3 linked regions of the Homo sapiens genome follow. The protein of the gene in region 2 interacts with the protein of the main gene of each other region in a pairwise test. Each region holds a gene or a part of one and is shown on either strand. Other genes may lie near its edges.

Region 1 (3,645 bases), on a different chromosome or scaffold from region 2:
GGAGATCGTGCGCATCAACCCCCGGGAGAAGATCTGGATGACGGGGTACGAGGATTACCGGCACGCACCCGTCAGGGGCAAGTACCCGGACCCCTCGGAGGACGCGGACTCCTCCTACGTGCGCTTCGCCAAGGGCGAGGTCCCCAAGCATGACTACAACTACCCCTACGTGGACTCCTCAGACTTTGGCCTAGGCGAGGACCCCAAAGGCCGCGGGGGCAGCGTGATCAAGACGCAGCCCTCCCGGGGCAAGTCGCGGCGGCGGAAGGAGGACGGAGAGCGCTCGCGGTGCGTGTACTGCAGGGACATGTTCAACCACGAGGAGAACCGCCGGGGCCACTGCCAGGACGCGCCCGACTCCGTGAGAACTTGCATCCGCCGGGTGAGCTGCATGTGGTGCGCGGACAGCATGCTCTATCACTGTATGTCGGACCCCGAGGGAGACTATACAGACCCTTGCTCGTGCGATACTAGCGACGAGAAGTTTTGCCTCCGGTGGATGGCTCTTATTGCCTTGTCTTTCCTGGCCCCCTGTATGTGCTGTTACCTGCCCCTTCGGGCCTGCTACCACTGCGGAGTGATGTGCAGGTGCTGTGGCGGGAAGCACAAAGCGGCCGCGTGACTCAGTTTCCCTCCCTTCTCCCTCCATCCGCAGCCACAGGGGAACTCGTCTCTTACATACTCTCATCTTCTCCCCCGCTCCCTTCCACTCCAAGGAGCGAGGAGGGCAAGCGGCCTCCCAGCTCCCTGGTACCTCGAGGCACCATTCCAGCCAGGGACGCTGCCGGGTAGACTCTCCACTCCCCCTGCCGCCCACACTGCAGCAGCCACATCCATACACACACGCTCGCACAGTGTTCTGAGGAAGGAACCTTCGCCACAGACTCCTGTACTATTAACAATCTGTAACCAAGCTAACTGTCTCATCCATGTGTTGATTTCCTGTTTCCTCCTCCCCCGCCTCTTCCAGTTCAAAGGAGTCTGCAATTGGAACTGCTGATTTTCGGTGGGTTTTGTAGTTGATTTTTCCAAGAGCGTCGAAGACTCTCTTTCTCTTGGTTCACCTTGCCTGTCGCTAGCAAGCATCTGGTTCAGCGGAAATGGGATGTGAGAATGATGAAACCCGACAGAAGTATCTCAGCCTGCAGTCAGTTATTATGTATAGGAGGTGAGCTAGTTAACAAACTTGTACCACAAAACAATATCGCTTTAACTTTTCTAAAGCCAAATTTCCCATGTAAGCTGCAGTTTCTATCTTTAGCCCATCATCATTTTCTGCCCCCCCAAAATCTGTTGAAATGATTCACTGATGCAAAACATTCACCCGTAATAGACTGAGAATTGAGCCTTAACTTCAGATTAACTTGTGAGAATCAGGAAAATTCCTTCAACTGCATTGCATCCTCTTGGACCAGGGCTAGAATGGGGATTTCAGGTTTCTATGAGCCTCCCCATTACCCCTAAAGTAGAACATTTTTTAAATTGTGTTGCCACCACTTCTAAAAATTTAGCAATATTAGAATAGGATACTAGTGAAGTAAGAAATTTTGCTTGTTGTTTTGCAAACCAAATAGTTTCCTCAAACACAAATCAGTGTTCCCACGAACAAGTTCCAGTTGAGAAACACTAAGGTTATGGTGAATAAAACCATAGGGAGCTTCTTCCCCCCAACCCCTGGCTATTTTATATTAATGGGGAGAGGGGATTTTTAAATGTCATAAATTTGAAGAGTGGTGGGTTGCATTTTCTTCATGGGTTTATGTTTTCGTTTCATTTTGGACTCAATTTCACATCACCAAATTCCTCATTTATACTTGGGGAAAAAACAAGGCCATATGTAAAAACCCTTCCAATGCCTAAGTGTCTTTCTCCTGCAACTCCAAACCCAGACTCGCCACTTTGGGTGCACAGGTGGTTAGGTCAGCCAACTGGTTCTGCCTGTCGCCTTGCCACGGAGGAGGCTTCTAATTAGCTGGAAAAGAGTATTTTTCTAATACGTTGCAAGGATTAGCCAAATCTTCTTATTGAAGAAAGAAGAAAAGTGAAGAGTGGTTACCTATACCTAGCATAGTACAATCAGAACCTCGTGGAGACCACCGGGGACAGGCTTGCGGACGCCGGCTGTTCTTCCCGCCACGATCTTTCTGTGGTAGCGGCCAGCAGAAGACATGGCCTGCTCCCCACTCCCTTTCCCCACTCCTTCTTTATTGCACACAGGACACCAGTCTTCAAGGAAAGGGACTTTTTTCCAGTCTGCCAATCATATTGGGAAAGTGCTAGCTGTGCTCACCTTCATGGGGCTGTTTCCAGCTCGTCCACAAGCTCATCGATTTTCTTTAGTAGATTACCGGTGTAAATACCCAGTGTGCTTATGAGTCAGTTAGTAGACGTCTTCATTCATTGGAGTAACTGGTTTAGGCTTTCCAGTTTGGAAAAGGAGCAGAGAGCTGTCCATCTGGATTGATGGAAGAAAAGAGAACCTCATCCATGCCTGGAGAACATCTAGAAAACCTTCAGCCAGCCTCCAGTGCTGTCGAGAGACCACCTTCCCCCGACCCGGAGGCACTTCCTTGGGGTCTTTCTCTAGGGTCTCTTCTCTACAAAGCACAACACTAATGTTCGTTTCCTTAGACCTCAGTTCAAGTGCCCCTATTTATTTCAATAAGAACGCACATATCCCAGCTGTTTTTTGTTTGTCACCTCTATTTAGTTGTTACCTGTTTCTCTCTTCTTTCACCCCTTGTCCTTTTCCACCCTTTTAAGAGTTACGCTAGCAGATCTTACTCCACGTATACTTTTTGGTTTGTGAAGGCATCGGTTAAGGGCACAAAGACAGCCATGGGGACATTTATGTAAATACGTCTCTAATTGCCACACTGCAGCTGAACAGTGTGTAGTATTTTCCCAGTCAGCTTTGCCATACTGACGTCAATCATTTGAGAGAAATTATTCAGATTTTATTTTTGTATCTGTGGTAACAAAACATTAACCAAAAGATTTTCTGTCCAGAAGCCTCCCCGACCCCCCAAGCTATTTGCTCACATTAACAAATTAAAGTGCCTGAAGCATAATTCATTCTTTACCTGTATACTAAAAACCCTGTTGTATTGATTTTTTTATAATAAGCCTTTTTACCTCTGTGTAAAAAATATATATACAAGTGTATGATGTACATTTTAGTTCTTAACTTTTTTTTATGGTTTCTAATATGTATGACCAATGTAGCCATTGCTTTAAAATGTACCGTGTAAATATAAACACATCCTATCAGATCGCTGGCTTTGGGGTATTTGTCTGGCAGGAGACGAGGTGATGCTAGAGCGTTGGCAGATCTTGGAGTTCCCGCATACAGGATGGGACAGGGCTTCCTGTGCCGAAGGACATGTGGACACCGGTCTGTTTTTTCAAGGCCCTTTCCTCCTATGGTTATGTCATATTCCCAAGGGGAGACTGCAGCTCCTTGGGCTCGGATGCCTCAGTGAAAGGAAGGCTGCAGGCCACCGCCCAGGAACACCCCCTCTTCCTAGGCCTGGCTTCCCCAACGAGCGCTCCTCAGAGGGAACAGCTGTACTTCCTCTAAGTTGTTTTCCACTGATCCCTGCTGAACCTCAGGGATATGTGTGTGTGTGTGTGTGTGTGTGTGTG
Region 2 (3,645 bases):
GCCCTGGCCAATGGCTGACAAGTATCCCAATTTTCCCGGGACTGAGAAGTTTCCTAGAACAGGGAACTTGCACTGCTAAATCCAGGATAGACCTGGGCAAACCCTATTGACAGCTGAACTGCATACTCCTGAGAGTCCTTGAGCCAGAGGCACCCAGCTTAACTGTGCCAAATTCCTAATGTTTGTTCTTAAGCTGCTGTTTGTGGTAATGTAATATGTAGCAATGGATAACTAACCTAGCACATCACAAATGAGCACATTAAAATGGGTGATACACTTATAACAAGGCATTCAACGTCACTGCTTATCAGAGAAATGCAAAGTAAACTTAGAACAAGTTATTACTCCATACTCACAAAAATGGCTAAAATTTGAAAAGACAGAAAATACCCAGTGTTGGCAAGGATGTGGAGCAACTGGAACTCTCATACACTACTAGTGGGACCGCAAAACAGCACAACCACTTTGGAAACTGTTTTCTAGTAACTACCAAAGCTAAATATTACACATATCCTATGTCCCAGCAATTCTACCCTTACATATACACCAACAGCAGGCATCCACTGGTTCACCAGGACGTGGACAAGAACGCTGATCTCTGGACAATACCTTGGACGTTATTCACACCCACTCCCCGCAGACTACATTGAACACTCCACAAAGAAGAGGCAGGAAAAAAGGGGAGAAGGGAGGAGAGGAGAAGGAAAGAAGGGAGACAGCTCTCTACCAGCAACAGGGGCCTCTGCCAGGCGTGCTATCATTCTGTGACAGCTAGGAGCTTAGTTAGGTCTTCAACCGGCTGCTCAGAGAGGGGATAAGAAATTGCTCTCCCAGGTCCCTGGCCCTGGTTGGGAACTAATTTTCAAAGTGTCTTCCACCCAGGACAATTCTTTTCTTTTTTTTTTTTTCTTTTCTTTTTTTTTTTTTTTTTGAGATGGAGTCTCACTCTGTTACCCAGGCTGGAGTGCAGTGGCACGATCTCGGCTCACTGCAATCTCCACCTCCTGGGTTCAAGCGGTTCTCCTGCCTCAGCCTCCCAAGTAGCTGAGACTAGGTGCGCACCACCACGCCCGCCTGATTTTTGTATTTTTAGTAGAGACGGGGTTTCACCATGTTGGTCAGGCTGGTCTTGAACTCCTGACCTGGTGATCCGCCTGCTTCAGCTTCCCAAAGTGCTGGGATTACAGGCGTGAGCCACCGCGCCCAGAAAAATTCTGTTCAAGCAAACTCGCAGGCTGATCTGGGTCTATAAAAATGATCAAAACAGAGGAGCTCTGACCAATTTGAAGGCCCCCCTTCCAGCCTCCTCCTCCCAGCTATGTCCCTGCTAGGCTGACCACAACACCCCCAGAGACCCAGGTAATTACCTGCCAACCGTAGGTGTCCTGCTGCTGGGTTTTCACCCCTGACCCATCCCAGACCCACCCCAGGCCCCGAGTCTGCACTCACCCAGCTCCAGCCTGGGACTATACCAGCCCGTCGTAGAGGGACAGCGCCTGCACAATGGACGGGTCTGCCTTGGAACCCTCCTGGAACTCCTGCAGGGTCAGCTTCCCGTCGGCATTCTGTGAGCAGAGAGAGGCGGCTGAGGGTGCAGGGCCTCCCAGGAGAGGGCTCTAGACAAGCCCAGCCCAGGGCCGGTCCCAAGAGCCCTTCCAAGGTTAGATCAGGAGGGAGGCAACGTGGCTCAGGGCCTACAAGCAGCCAGCACCAGACAGACCTCGGCACTCATGGCAGGGTGGCCTTGGGCCGTGGCCCACCTCTCTGGGCATGTTTCTTCACCTGGGGATGGAGGGTAATTACCTGGCTTCCTCCAGGCACTCGGGTGACAGCTCTGTGCTTGACCAACTGGAAGTGCCCTGTAACTCCACACGTGTCATGGTTAATGCTATTAAACCCCATCAATGTGAGTAACTGACAAGGCTGAGAGCCTCGTGCAGTTCTCTGGGGTCACTCTTGGAAGGGCATTTAAACTGCTCCTGGAGCAGCCCACACTGGACCCTGGGAGACCCGGCAGGGGGCTGGACATGGCTCAGAAAGAGGAATTTTAGTGGGTCTCTCGGGGAGGGGATGTTTGGGCCAGAATCCCTTCCCCGGAGCATCTCTCAAGGAAGCCGGCGGACCACAAGGAAAAGGCCACGGAGAGCACCTACTCGATCTCGGGTATCCAGAGAGGGTAAGTGCCGAAAACAGCGCCGATGAGCACAACCGAGCTGTGCTCAGGGATCGCTCGCTGCGTACACGACATATGCCAAGCTCGGCGCAACCCTCAGTGTATGGAACCCTCACGGCCAAGCCAAGAAGGGGGTGCTGCTCTCATCCCCATTTTACCAGTGAGGAAGCTGAGGCTCCGTCACCTACCCAGGCCCCAGGGCTGGGAAACGGAGAAGTCAGATTCACACCCCAGTCAGTGTGACTACAGGGTCTGTGCTGTTTCCCAAAATGACGGAAGTGCAGACAGGGGGACAGTAAGGAATGTGCGGCCTTGGCCTTAAGCCACGTGGACGCACACCACGAGAAACTTATTATTCCGTGCTCCACACTCTGTCGATAAATCTTTTGATCATTACCAAGACGCCAGCTGGGTCTGAGGCCAGCACGTCTCTACCACTCCTCTAACATGGGCTAATCTCCCTTTTTTAATTAAGAAAGTACAGGCCTCAGGTCAAAGCTTTTAGGGCAAACAGCTGTCTCCAGCCAGAATCTAATAAGCAGCCCTGCGTTACAGGAATTTCTATGATTGACTGATCGATTGATTGATTGAGACAGGGTCTCACTCTGTCACCCAGGCTGGAGTGCAATGGCACCATCACGGCTCACAGCAGACTTGGTTTCTCAGGCTCCAGCCATCCTCCCACTTCAGCCTCCCGAGTAGCTGGGACCACAGGTGCACACCACCACACCCGGCTAATTTTTGTATTTTTTGTAGAGTCGGGGTTTCATCACGTTGCCCAGGCTGGTCTCAAACTCCTGAGCTCAAGTGATCCACTCGCCTTGGCCTCCCAAAGTGCTGGGATGACAGGTGTGAGCCACCGCACCTGACCATTTTATGTTATTTTGCTGAAGGCACGTAACACCTGGATTTCCCTAACGTCATTATTTCAAATTTACATTTAAGTTATTTTAGTTTTAAGTAAGTTTGATTTAAAGAAGGATTCCTTATTTCTTTGGAGTCCCTTTTTTTAGGCTTTTATTTTAGGCTCAAGGATACATGTGCAGGTTTGTTATATAGGTAAATCCTGTGTTGTGGGGGTTTGCTGTACAGACTATTTTGTCACTCAGGTGATAAGCATAGTACCTGATAATAGGTGGGTTTCGATCCTCACCCTCCTCTCACCCTCCACCCTCAAGTAGGCTCCAGTGTCTATGGTTCCTTTTATTTTATTTTTTTTCTTTTGAGACAGTCTCACTCTTATTGCCCAGGCTGGAGTGCAGTGGTGTGATCTCGGCTCACTGCAACCTCTGCCTCCCAGGTTCAAGCAATTCTCCTCCCTCAGCCTCCCGAGTAGCTGGGATTACAGGCATGTGCCATCATGCCTGGATAATTTTTTTTTTTTTTTTTGAGACTGCGTCTCACTCTGTTGCCCAGGCTGGAGTGCAATGGCGCGATCTCCACTCACTGCAACTGCTGCCTCCCGGATTTTT
Region 3 (4,360 bases), on a different chromosome or scaffold from region 2:
TGAAGGGAAGACAGAGGGACTTTGTGGGTTTCAGGACCCTGGAGAAGCGTGACAACCGAATAAGGCACATGGCTCAGAAACGGATCCTTTGCTATAAAGGACACTATTGGGGCATTGTGTACATTTTGCATAGGGCCTGAAGGCTATTTGGAGTTATTGTATCCGTGTTTATTTCTTGATTACGGTTATAATGCAAAAATGCCTTTGCGTGAAAAACACATTAAAGTATTGGGGTGTTGGGGTTTCATGTTGACAACCTACTCTCATAGGTTCAGGGGAAAAAAAAGTCGTACGATACTGGCAATTTTTCTGTAATTTTGATGTTGTTTCAGAATAATAAAATGAAAAATGAAACTGACCAAGGCCACCTGGTTAATAAGTGACAGCTCTGGGTCAAAACTCAGGTGTGCCTTTCCCCTAAAGCCATGCCCTGCCCTGCCAACCACAAGGCCCTGCACATCCAAGTTGGCCTCTGTTCCTGCTCATCACCTGCAAAACAGCCCTGCCTCCCCACAGCCAAGTTGCTGGAGCTTCGCCCCACCTGCCCCCAACCTGCACTGGCCTGACTCCCCCATTCCACACCTGGCCCAGCACCCACCACATGGTGTGGCAGACAGCACTGGGGCAGCTGAAAGACTCCATGCTACAAATTGGCACTGCCCAGCTTCCTGCTCCTGGGAGTGGGGTCCGTTGTCTGAGCTTCCGCTCCCTGGAAGAGCTCCAAACTCCTCAATGGTTTGGGATTTTTCAAACCAATTCCAAATAAGCCAGGGGAGATTTTCCTGTCTGGGTTCCCATCATTACCACCTCCACAGTTGGAGATTCCCTCCTAATCCAGATGCTCAAACCAGGACCCTAACAACTAGGGCTTCATATATCACTGGGACACTTAGCATAATCACCATTGCAGGTTGCCAGACATCACCCAAAGTGATGTTCTACCAAAGACAGAAACTGCAGCTCTCCCATGACCTTCCAGGTGCTGCCCTGACTCCTCCAGCTGAACCTGCTAGGGCAGAGGGAAGTGGAACGTGCAGCATATTTGCCTGCCACTCTGTCCATGTGCCCACCAACTCGGCTGCAGGCTCCAGAGACACTGGCTGGGGGTCCTGGGGCTCAGAGCTGAGCAAGGTTACAGGGCAGACAGGTTGGCCTGGATCAACCTGACCAACCTCAGCTGAAGCAGTGACTTCTTCATTGTCTGAAACTAAACCAGGAACCCAGTGGAGCTCCCTGAGTGCAGAGTGGGTGACCTTAGCCAGTGAGGCATTTCTCTTCTTACAGACCTGGTATTTTTCTTTACCAGGTTCTGTGCTCCCCTCAAGGGTCCTAAGTATTCCTGCAGCCTGAGTGTTCTGCAGGGAAATGTGCTGTGTAAACACTATGCCTATTTCCTGCTTGGAGAACAGGTTTTGTGGTAGAGCTCTCAGGGGTGGGGAAGAAGCCTGGCAGCCCACATGCTATAAATTCTGTTGTCCACCTTTATGCTCTAACTTGGAGGCAGAGACCCAAGCAGCTGGAGGCTCTGTGTGTGGGTGAGTTTAGCCACATCCCCTAGGTGTTCTCCAGCTTGAGGATCGCAGGCAGAGAGGACCAGCCCAGCAGCCACAGGCCTGACCAAGGCCCAGGTTGGGAAGGAGGGCAACTCCCCATTTTCCACTGGGAGGTGTTTCACAGCATGGTCAACATGGATGACCTACAAAGACCCTCATGCTTTGATATCTTCCTTGGCCAGATCCATCCCTACCAGGGACTCAGCAGGGCCTAAGCAGGGGGAGTGGGAGAACAGACCCCAAGAGGAAGGAAGACCTCATCACTGACTGTGAGAGGGTCATCACCCCCCGATGATCACCTTGAAGGGTCCAGGCTGTGGGCCCTATTCATCTCTTTTCATTCTCAGGTCGCTGATTTCTTGGAGCCTGAAAAGAAGGTAACTGGGCATATGAGGGACAGATGGAGTGAGTCAGTGAGTGAGTGACCTCATCCTTCCTTCTAACAGCCTGGGAGGGACAGGGCAGGTTTTCTGCAGAGCATGGAAGATTCAGCTGAAATCAGAGAGGTGAAGCCAGTTTCCCAGGGTAACATAGTGAGGCACTGAAAGAAAGGAGACTGCACTGGAGCCCAGGTCCCTGGGCTCCCCAGAGCTCCTTACTCTTCCTCCTCCTCAGCAGTCTTGAGACCCCACAACCTCCAGCCGGAGGCCTGAAGCATGAGGCCATGCCAGGTGCCAGGTGATGCTTGGAATTTTCCCGGGTGCTTCGGGTCTTCCCAGCACTCTGGTCTCGCCCGCCCTGCCTCTCGGGCTCTGCCCAGCTTCCTGAGTCCTGACAGAGCACAGTGGGGGAGATGTTGGCAGAGGTGGCAGATGGGCTCACGGCCATCCCTCCGGCAGGAGCAGCGACTGGACCCAGAGCCATGTGGCTGTGCCCTCTGGCCCTCACCCTCATCTTGATGGCAGCCTCTGGTGCTGCGTGCGAAGTGAAGGACGTTTGTGTTGGAAGCCCTGGTATCCCCGGCACTCCTGGATCCCACGGCCTGCCAGGCAGGGACGGGAGAGATGGTGTCAAAGGAGACCCTGGCCCTCCAGGTACTGTGCTGCAGACCCCACCCTCAGCTGAGGGACACAGACCCCTTTTCAGGAGGCCCATCTGTCCAGGCCCCTAGGCTGTGGGCCATAGTGAGCTGGGGGCTATAGTAAGCTGGGTGGGACTTCAGTCTGCAGGGGTGGTGGGTTCCTGGGGCCCTTATGATGGCGCATCCTGGAGAGTCTGTCCTCATAGTGCCCACGGAGTGATAGCTGAGCCAGCCCCGGTGATAATGGGCATCGAGTCTCACTAGCTCCAACCAGTTGTGGGTGACAGATCCTACACATCCATGTCTCTTTTCTCTGCAGGCCCCATGGGTCCGCCTGGAGAAACACCATGTCCTCCTGGGAATAATGGGCTGCCTGGAGCCCCTGGTGTCCCTGGAGAGCGTGGAGAGAAGGGGGAGGCTGGCGAGAGAGGCCCTCCAGGTGAGCAGGGCGGGGCAGGTGGGCAGTGGAAACATGGGCACAGCGACCTGAAGTCAGTTACACAGGGGTGATGGGGGTCAGACAAACCCTGCAGGTTCCCCAAGGGCATTTGGCTCAACCTAAGTAAGAGAATATGAATTTGAGGGAGAAAGCCGAGGTGTCTGGGGAGTGTGGTCACAATTCAGAGAAGGGCAGGTGTGGGAAGTCCTCCGTGCCTCATGACCGCTGATGGGGACACACTGAGTCAGGTGTGGGACGAGGGACAGCACTGGGAGGCAGGGGAGGCATGTCCTGGGATGGAGGCCCTGGGGGCAGTCTGAAGGGTGAATGCGGACGAGGCATCCAGGCAGATGGTGTGATCAGGAGCCCCACAGACAGAGGGGAACTTTGAAGCTCAGAGCGGTAAGCAAGTCCATCAGGGCAGTGCAGAGAGCATCATGCTTGCCCTTGGTGGAGGGTGCGGGAGAGGGACTTGCCCCACAGAGGCGGGCAGACAGAACCCCTCGAGGGACAGAGCAGGAAAGAGGACAAGGGGTGGGGGTCTCAGCAGGGGCAAGGCTTCACTAAAGAATAGGGGACCACGGGGTGTGGAGACACACTGGAATCTCGTGGACCCTCTGAGCCTAGGGTCTGGGTGGTGCCTAACAGCAATGAAAGGGCAGAGTTCCAGGATTGCAGATGGCAAAACGCCTGCGTGGCAGCAAGTGGGAGTCTTCACTGGCCTGCCCCTCCTTCTGTGTGGGGCACTCTCCACAGGGCTTCCAGCTCATCTAGATGAGGAGCTCCAAGCCACACTCCACGACTTCAGACATCAAATCCTGCAGACAAGGGGAGGTAAGGGGACCCCCTGGGCCTCACGGGGTAGGAGTTTCCCACAAATTCCCCTCATTCTCAGCACCACCTTCTAGAATAGAGATGACAAACAAGCGTGCACATGCAGGTGTTGGGGAAAGGAATGATGCTTGCTTTTCTGATGTCTTTGAATGGCCAAGAGGAGACAAGCAGACACAATTCACTCCCCATTTCATAAGAAAGCAAGTTCTCTGCCTGTCTTGCTTTCCACTGAATCCTAGGAAATTGCACCATTTCTGGCAATAAGTAATTGTTACTTAGATGAATGAATAAATGGAGGAGAGTCTAAAAGTGAATTTAGAAAACTGCAATTGGAAGAGGAAGAGAAGACACAGAGAGAGGCAGAGATGGAGAGACTGGGGAGAATCTGGTAGCAGAGACCCTAGGTGAGGGAGGTGGCTTAGAGACAAAGTGGTCAGTGGCCTGACCTGGACTCCTCTGCTCTCAGCCCTCAGTCTGCAGGGCTCCATAATGACAGTAGGAGAGAAGGTCTTC

The links.
Region 1: the proteins of NCS1 (region 2) and SPRED2 interact in binary tests that used the Homo sapiens proteins (3 or more experiments, as listed by UniProt).
Region 3: the proteins of NCS1 (region 2) and SFTPA2 interact in binary tests that used the Homo sapiens proteins (3 or more experiments, as listed by UniProt).

What each region holds. Positions count from the first base shown.
Region 1 is NC_000002.12:65,310,478-65,314,122, reverse strand, and holds the end of SPRED2 (sprouty-related, EVH1 domain-containing protein 2), read left to right. Parts: coding exon 1-622; 3' UTR 623-3,272; downstream 3,273-3,645. UniProt on the Homo sapiens protein: Negatively regulates Ras signaling pathways and downstream activation of MAP kinases. Recruits and translocates NF1 to the cell membrane, thereby enabling NF1-dependent hydrolysis of active GTP-bound Ras to inactive GDP-bound Ras.
Region 2 is NC_000009.12:130,224,309-130,227,953, reverse strand, and holds part of NCS1 (neuronal calcium sensor 1), read right to left. Parts: intron 1,566-3,645; coding exon 1,467-1,565; 3' UTR 1,450-1,466; intron 1-1,449. UniProt on the Homo sapiens protein: Neuronal calcium sensor, regulator of G protein-coupled receptor phosphorylation in a calcium dependent manner. Directly regulates GRK1 (RHOK), but not GRK2 to GRK5. Can substitute for calmodulin. Stimulates PI4KB kinase activity.
Region 3 is NC_000010.11:79,557,539-79,561,898, reverse strand, and holds the start of SFTPA2 (pulmonary surfactant-associated protein A2 isoform 1 precursor), read left to right. Parts: upstream 1-1,491; 5' UTR 1,492-1,535; exon of another isoform or gene 1,536-1,628; intron 1,629-1,900; 5' UTR 1,901-1,930; exon of another isoform or gene 1,931-1,942; coding exon of another isoform or gene 1,943-1,970; intron 1,971-2,027; exon of another isoform or gene 2,028-2,209; coding exon of another isoform or gene 2,210-2,231; intron 2,232-2,389; coding exon of another isoform or gene 2,390-2,415; coding exon 2,416-2,587; intron 2,588-2,893; coding exon 2,894-3,013; intron 3,014-3,769; coding exon 3,770-3,847; intron 3,848-4,313; coding exon 4,314-4,360. UniProt on the Homo sapiens protein: In presence of calcium ions, it binds to surfactant phospholipids and contributes to lower the surface tension at the air-liquid interface in the alveoli of the mammalian lung and is essential for normal respiration.